Linked DNA regions of Homo sapiens. The protein of the gene in region 2 purifies or fractionates together with the protein of the main gene of each other region. This does not show direct contact. Each region holds a gene or a part of one and is shown on either strand. Other genes may lie near its edges. The genes, in order: MYH14 and SLC36A1.

Region 1 (3,525 bases), on a different chromosome or scaffold from region 2:
CCCAAGGTGGGGTCAGGGGCTGAGGGCTCAGCCTCTATATGTGCTGACTCTGAGGCCAGACTGTCTGGGTTCAAACTGTTTCAACTTCTTAGTAGCTGTGTGTCCTTGGGCAAGTCACTCAGCCTCTCTGAGCCTGTTTCCACCACTCTAAAAGGGTGGGAGGGGCATCACTTAGTTATTCAGCAAATATTGAGTGAATGCCTGCTGTGTGCCAGACACTGTTCTAGGCACTGGAGTGCAATGAAATCTCTACCTGTAGTGCTATGTAAGGGTTAAGATAAACTGTGTGCTTAGCACAGCACGCAGCACAAACGACCACGGCTGTCTTTTTGTTTTGTTTTGCTTTTGGGACAGGATCTCACTCTTCACCCATGCTACAGTGCAGTGATGCAATCATAGCTCACTGCAGCCTCCACCCCCTGGGCTCAAGTGATCCTCCCACCTCAGCCTCCCGAAGCACTGGGATCACAGGTATGAGCCACTGCAGCAGGCCTGTCATTTATTTTGCAAAACTTAAGAGTTGGCCCGAGTGCAACACCCCTTCTAGCACTCACTGGGGGCGTGGAGTGAGGGATGCTGCTGCTCTGAGACTGTTCCCTCATCTGTATAATGCAGGGAATATTTCCATTATACACTGGAGTCAGGAGGAAAGGAGTTATGAAGCGCCTGATCCACAGGATGTCCCTGTATACCCACGCAGGTGTCATTCTAACCAGCAGGCTGCCTGACCTGCTGCCCTAGCAGGCTGAAGCAGCCTGTGCCCATCCTGCCCCATCAGAGACCCCCTGCAGGAACACACACAGCCACAGAGATGGTCCAGTCGGGTTGGAGTTTATTTCTGCCAGAGCCTGGAGGCTGGGAGGGTAAAGGACACTCCTTTAGTCCCAGAGGGAAGCTCCGAACCCTCAGAGCAACCAGAAGGGAGGGCAGAGCATGGGCAGCAGCAGGAGTGAGAGGGGTCCCCTTGTCCTGCCCCTTTGCAAGGGTTCAAGGCTGGTGGAGGCCTGGGGCTTCTGTCGCTCAGGAGTTCAGGGGTGGACGCAGAAATGGGGGAAGGAGAGTGGCTACGTAGAGAGTGAGAGCGAGATTCCTAAAAAGATGCACAGAGAGACCCTCAGAGAGGCCAAGAAAGATGGTGAGAGGGTAGGGAAGGAGAGGGAGGGAGAGAGAGAGAGAGAGAGAGAAGCAGAGGGAATGGGTTGCACTGGCTGAGGATGGTGGAGGAGCCGTCTCACTCCCTTCCTAATGTCTATAGATCAATAACGAGGGAAGAAAGGAGGACAGGGAGCTGATGGAAACACAGCTTGCCAACTGTACCCAGTCCCCCAACAAGCAAGGTAGCTCCAGTCATTGCCTCCCTGCCTGCCCCGCTCCTCTGTGTTTAGGGGTCATCCTTTGATGGGAGGTTGCAGGGGACCCAGGTGGGGGTGATAAATGCCAGAGTGCTGCACCATTTCCAAAGGGCAAGAAGTCAGAGGGCGGGGTTCCTGGGACAGGGGCCCGTGGGGTCCAGGGAGGAAGGGGGCTGGGCCCCATCTGTTAGTGCATCTGGGGACAGGGTAGGGTCACTGGGGGTGGGCTGGTGGGGACCCCTCAGGCTCCGGGGATGGCCCAGACCCAGGCTGTGCTTCCTCTGCCTCCTCGTCGGATGCCACGCCCTCCTCTAGTCGGAAGACCTGGCGCACCGTGCGGGTGGTGAAGGTGAGGGGGCCGCGTCTGTGGGGAGGAGAGACCAGGATACAGAGATGAAATGAGGGGAGGGGAGGGGAGGAGAAAGGGGGAGGAGAGAGAGAGATGAGGGGGAGAGAGAGAGAGATAGGAAGAGAGAGAACAAAATAAGGGGGAAGAGAGGGATGAGATCAAGAGAAATGGAGGGAGACGGGCAGAAGCAATGGGGGGCAGAGAGAGATGAAGGACACACAGAGAGGAGGAAAGGAGAGAAAGGTGGTGGTGCACGGTGGGAAAGGAGGGCACAGAGATGACAGGGAGAAATGGGTGTGGGAAGAAAGAAGTTACCTGGATTTGGCTCTCCCGCAACACAGCCGCTGCTCCCACAGCCCCACACCCCCGTGGATCCCATTTCCCCCTGTTGTTGCCCCTGGCACGGCCTCGCGTCCCTGGGGTTTATGGAGTTAGGGTGCTCCCCACCCGTCAGGCCTGTACGTGGGATGACCATACCGAAGCCGGTTCCTCAGTGTGGTCACTTCACGGTTCATGGACTCGGCCGACTCTGTGACATCTTCCAGCTCACGCTGCAGCCTCCGGCGGCCGGCCTGAGCCCGGGATGCCTCCTCCTCGGCCTCCTCCAGCTGCCGCTTCAGCTGCTTGACTCGAAGGTTTCCCTTCTCCAGCTTGATGGAAGCAGGGGGACTGGGTTATATCTCCAGGTACTGTCATCACTCCCTCCCTCTCCAACAGCCCACTACTGCCCCATCCCTACTGCCCCCTGACTCTCTCTGCCCCATCCTCTGCTCTCTGTTTAGGCCTTGTTCTTTTCTCCTAAATCCCTCATGCCAGCCTCTACCCTGACCTCCAGTCTCTCCCCTCCAGGTTGTCTCCTACATGGCCTCAGAAAGGTCTTCCTATACCCAGAGCTGACCCAGACCCTCCTGCTCACAATCCTTTCATGGCTCCCCAGTACCCCCGGGACAAGGTTCCAGCCCCTCAGCCTGGCATTCCAGGCCCCACAGGGTCTTTTTCTTGTCCAGTTCTCTCTTCCCATAAACCCACTGTCCAGACCAACTTCACTGAGATCCTCCCCAGACCCTACCACCTCTCTCTTCAGGGAGGGAACATACATGATCTGACCTCATTTCTTATCGTTCAGCCTTCCTATCCCACATTTTCTGGAGTCAATGAGCTCCCATCACAAGAAGCAACGTGCAGGTGCTGGACTGGAAGTGAGTGCAGATACCATCCTGGCACTTGGCACATCAGCAGAGGGTTGGAATCAATGACTTCGCAATTTATAAATTCTGGCATCTAGGAAGGGCCCTTGTAGGGAGCTGAGGCAGCCAAAGTGAGGGAAGAAGTTAAACTCTACCAAGAAGCTAGACCAGGACTAAAATAACAACAGATGTTTATCTAGACCATACTAATCTGCTTTTTGTTCTGAACTCACCAAACGTATTTCTATTCTTCAAGGCCTTTATACTTGCTGTTCCCTCTGACTGGCTCTTTTTCACCCTTCAGGTATCAATTTAAATGTCACCTTCTCAAAGAGTTCTTCCTGATCTCCCAACCTGAAGAGGATTCCCCAATCCTCTGTGTCTTCCTCTCTCTTCACTTTTTTTCTTCATAGCCCTTGTCACAATCTGTAATTATCTGCTTGTTTACAGGTTTATTACGTCTCATCCTATGCAGAAAATGTGAGCTCCATGAGGGCAGGGACTTCCTCTGTTTCGTTCACATCCATATCCCTAATGCCTACCACAGTGTCTGGCACATAGCAGGTGCTCAATAATTGTTTGTGGAATGAATGGCGAATAAAGCACAGCTGAGCTTTTAAGGGCAGAGGGACTCTGT
Region 2 (3,815 bases):
AGGAAACTAAGGTGGGAGGATCACTTGAGCCCAGGAGATGGAGGTTGCAGTGAGCCATGATTGTGCCAGTGCACTCCAGCCTGGACAACAGAGCAAGACCCTGTCTCAAAAAAATAAAAGGAAGTAACCCATGAAACTCATGGAAGTGTTTGGGGTTCCTATTTGCACCCCCTAACTAGGGGTTTTTGCTGAGCCCTTGACTTCTAGAAGAGCCAGGTGTGTGCATGCATATGTGCAGTAGGTGTAGAAGTACTTCCATGTATTTTGTTCCTTGGCAAACTAGATAAAAGGGTGGGGCAAACCAGAAATATAAAAGGAACCCAGCTCAAAAACTTGTCTCTAACACTTCCGACATATTAAAATATTAATTTAGGTTAAGAAGGTCCTCCAAATCAACCTCTACCTTAATCATACCTGGCATGTTTTCTATATAAATCCTTGCGTGGATCCTATGCCCCAGGCTGGAAGTACTCAACCAGTCCTCTAAGCCCCAGCAAATTACTTTATCTTGTACCACCTGTGATGGGACTGTAATACCTGCCATCAACTACAGATAGGCTTCCCTGGTCACCTACACTGTATCACAACATCAAGGCAGGAAGGGAAACTCGGAACAAAGTATACCCTGGAAAATGTCACAATACAAGCCTGAGGAAGGTATCTTCTGATTTGTTCGATTTCCAAGAAACAAGGACATAATTTTGTCCAAAACCTATGAGCTACTATCCTAAAGTTGCTAGTTGGTAGGTTTTGAGCTTCAGAGATGTCTCTATAAACATAAAAATCCAGACCTCATCTGCTAAATATTGCTTAGACAAGTTGATATCTGAGATCAAAAAGGAGCAAAAACTGCAAAGGAAACTACAGAGAAGGAAGCTTAGAAGTATCTTACGATAACAAGCATGACCTCTGAAGGGAAGCCATCACATGCCATTGGCTGTGTGTGGAGATGCTTCTGCATGGGGGCTGCCAATGCTGATAAGGTTGGAGGAAAGAGGGGCAGGGTGATCCACACTGCTGCCAGCTGTGCTCTAAGCAATCTACCACCAGCTAACTCCCACTGCAGGCTAATGGGGAATCTACAAAAGCATACCCCTGAGAAATAAGCTACAGAAACAGAATCTTAGAGGACTGGTTGAGTACTTCCAGCCTGAGGCATAGAAATCAGCTAGTGGTGGTGACGGGCCAGGAATGTGGACAGACATTCTTCTAGTTCCACCCCAGTTCGCAAGAGAAAATGCCCTGTACCAGCAGACAGTGCAGGCAGAGGGAGCTTCTCCAGTGATGAGCCCAGAAGCTTCCATGGTCCGCTTGGGCAGTCATCAGGAATGGCATAAGTCTAGGACATGAAGGATCTCTCAGTAAGTCACACTCAGTCCACAAGAAAACACAGAAAAGGTAATAGCTAAGCTTGAGGAATAAACAGGACTGCAAAAGCTGAGATGCTGGGACACAGAGAAAAGTCAGAGGTCTGCTGAAATCAGGAGTAGCTGGGAAACTAACTCAATGGAGTAGCAAAACTTCCTCTGAATTTTCTAATTCAAGTGGTGAGCCCCACACAGCCAGCATAGCTTTGTGGTGGAGTCCTCAATTTTTCTTTACATTTGGGGAAAGTGAGACCTGAAGCGGGCCAAACTCAGCCCAAATGAGTCTGGGGTCCCAGTTTCTGGAGACAAGAGATTAAGCCCTCTTTGGAGAATGCAAAGTCTATCTTTCCTTTCCTACCAACCCTGAATTTTTTAAGTGCAGAAGTTAATTCTTCTCTCTTCCCACTTCTTCAGTCAAATGAATACTGATTTGGTGATGGGGCAGAATTCGGGGGGAGACTTTGCAAAGGAAGCTTCCGATTATGCTTGGAAATTATTTGGGGTTCTAGCACAGATGACACACTTTTAAATTAAAAGAATGTCCTCTGTAGAAGCTTTTTTTAAGTCCAAGCTCTCACTTGGCACCAGCCTTGGGGGGCCAACACAGCTGAAAGGAAAAAAGAGTAAGAAACTGCCTAGAGAGTGGCAGCCCAGGAAGGCAAATCTCAGCGCAGTCACTCGCCCAATCTCTTCACTGCTGACCTTCATCTGTAAAGTGGAGGACTGATGAAATTGGGGGGAAAAATAAGTCCAAGGGAGGCTTAGGAACACGAATCCCACCCAGGAGAGGAGAAGGTAACAGCTACTCACGTTGTGCTATTGCTTTGACCAAAGCGCTGGTAGGAGCCCGGGGAGGAGAGGTTGTTGAGGCCTTCCGACGGGCTCTCCTCAGGGCTCACGTCCGTGGAGCTGTAGTCGTGGTAGTCTTCATTCCGAAGTCTCTGCGTGGACATGGCAGCTGGGGGGACAGGGCCAGCATTAAGACCTCCTGCAGCTGGAGCCTTTAGCTCCATATTTGGGGTGGCCTCTGGGGTAGAAGCTGTCATTGTCAGAGTTGCTCACTGTGACAGCTCCACTATGGATTAAGTATGAAAGTGCCTGGTACCAAGGGAAATGGAAAAGTGCAAAGTACACAGAGGCGGGCTGAGTTCACTTGACTTCTGACTCCCATCCTTCCCATTGGTATACGTGGTGCTACACTCATAAATTTCTTAATTTTCCGGAGTACAGCTAGACAAGGCAGAAGTGAGGCACTGCTTGGGAGGAGTGGGGGAAAATGAAAGAGAAGTGCTTCCTGGAATTCCGCATTCCCTATTCCTTAGGTCAGGATTATCTACTCCTTTCTGAGATAATGTCTTGGACCTTGTGCAATAGTTCAATCGTGTGTGTATATATATATATATAAATATCCCATATATATATATATATATATACGTATATACACGTGTATGTATATATATACACGTATACACATATACACACGTATATATATATATGTACAAGCTCTTGGGGGGATGGAAATCTGGGTATTTCTCATCGTATACTCTTTTTCCTCTGCCTTCAATAGAGAACACATTTCACTCAAGAAATCCTCTCTGGGCTGGGTGTGGTGGCTCACGCCTGCAACCCCAGCACTTTGGGAGGCCAAGGCGGGCGGATCACCTGAGGTCCGGAGTTCAAGACCAGCCTGAGTAACATGGAGAAACCCCGTCTCTACTAAAAATACAAAATTAGCCGGGCGTGGTGGTGCATGCCTGTAATCCCAGCTACTCGGGAGGCTGAGGCAGGAGAATCGCTTGAAACCGGGAGGCGGAGGTTGTGGTGAGCCGAGATCGTGCCATTGCACTCCAGCCTGGGCGACAAGAGCGAAACTCCATCTCAAAAAAAAAAACAAACAAACAACAAAAAAAAAGAAAACAGAAATCCCCTCTGGATCATCCAATTCTGCTGAAACTCCCACCAAATCCCAGAGCCACACATGCCGTTCTCTTTCTCTCTGCTGTGACCACAGGCTGATCCTATACTCTCTGGAGGCCACCAGTAACTCTTATACCCTGACCCTGGGACTCCTTTCTTGCTGCCAACCTGAGTACTGAGAAATGGTAGCTGAAAGCAGCTCAGAGGAGGACCAGGAAACTGAAAGGTGCTCACCCTGGCCCTCGTCTCAACATCTCCCATCCACAACTCTTCTTCCTTTTTATTTTTATAGATGTGCTCATTTTTAAAATGGTGAGAGAAAAAAATGTCCTTTCAATGTGTTGGGAGGGTGGTGAGAGTGGTGTCCCCTGGGTGGATTTACTCAGGAATACTATTAATACTACACAAAAGAGAAGAGCAAGGGCTTCTTAAAGATACACAATAAGGACACATTTTGGGAGCGATGTAGGCCCCTAGAATCCTAGAGACCATTGCTAAATGAGCCTTCACAGGTCACTCTAAGCCCCTTAC

Evidence for each region.
Region 1: the proteins of SLC36A1 (region 2) and MYH14 purify together in Homo sapiens (affinity purification with mass spectrometry; one large-scale study listed by BioGRID and IntAct). This does not show direct contact.

What each region holds. Positions count from the first base shown.
Region 1 is NC_000019.10:50,307,831-50,311,355, reverse strand, and holds the end of MYH14 (myosin-14), read right to left. Parts: intron 2,352-3,525; coding exon 2,179-2,351; intron 1,717-2,178; coding exon 1,566-1,716; 3' UTR 816-1,565; downstream 1-815. UniProt on the Homo sapiens protein: Cellular myosin that appears to play a role in cytokinesis, cell shape, and specialized functions such as secretion and capping.
Region 2 is NC_000005.10:151,457,298-151,461,112, reverse strand, and holds part of SLC36A1 (proton-coupled amino acid transporter 1), read right to left. Parts: exon of another isoform or gene 2,414-3,815; coding exon of another isoform or gene 2,321-2,413; coding exon 2,178-2,320; intron 1-2,177. UniProt on the Homo sapiens protein: Electrogenic proton/amino acid symporter with selectivity for small apolar L-amino acids, their D-enantiomers and selected amino acid derivatives such as 4-aminobutanoate/GABA.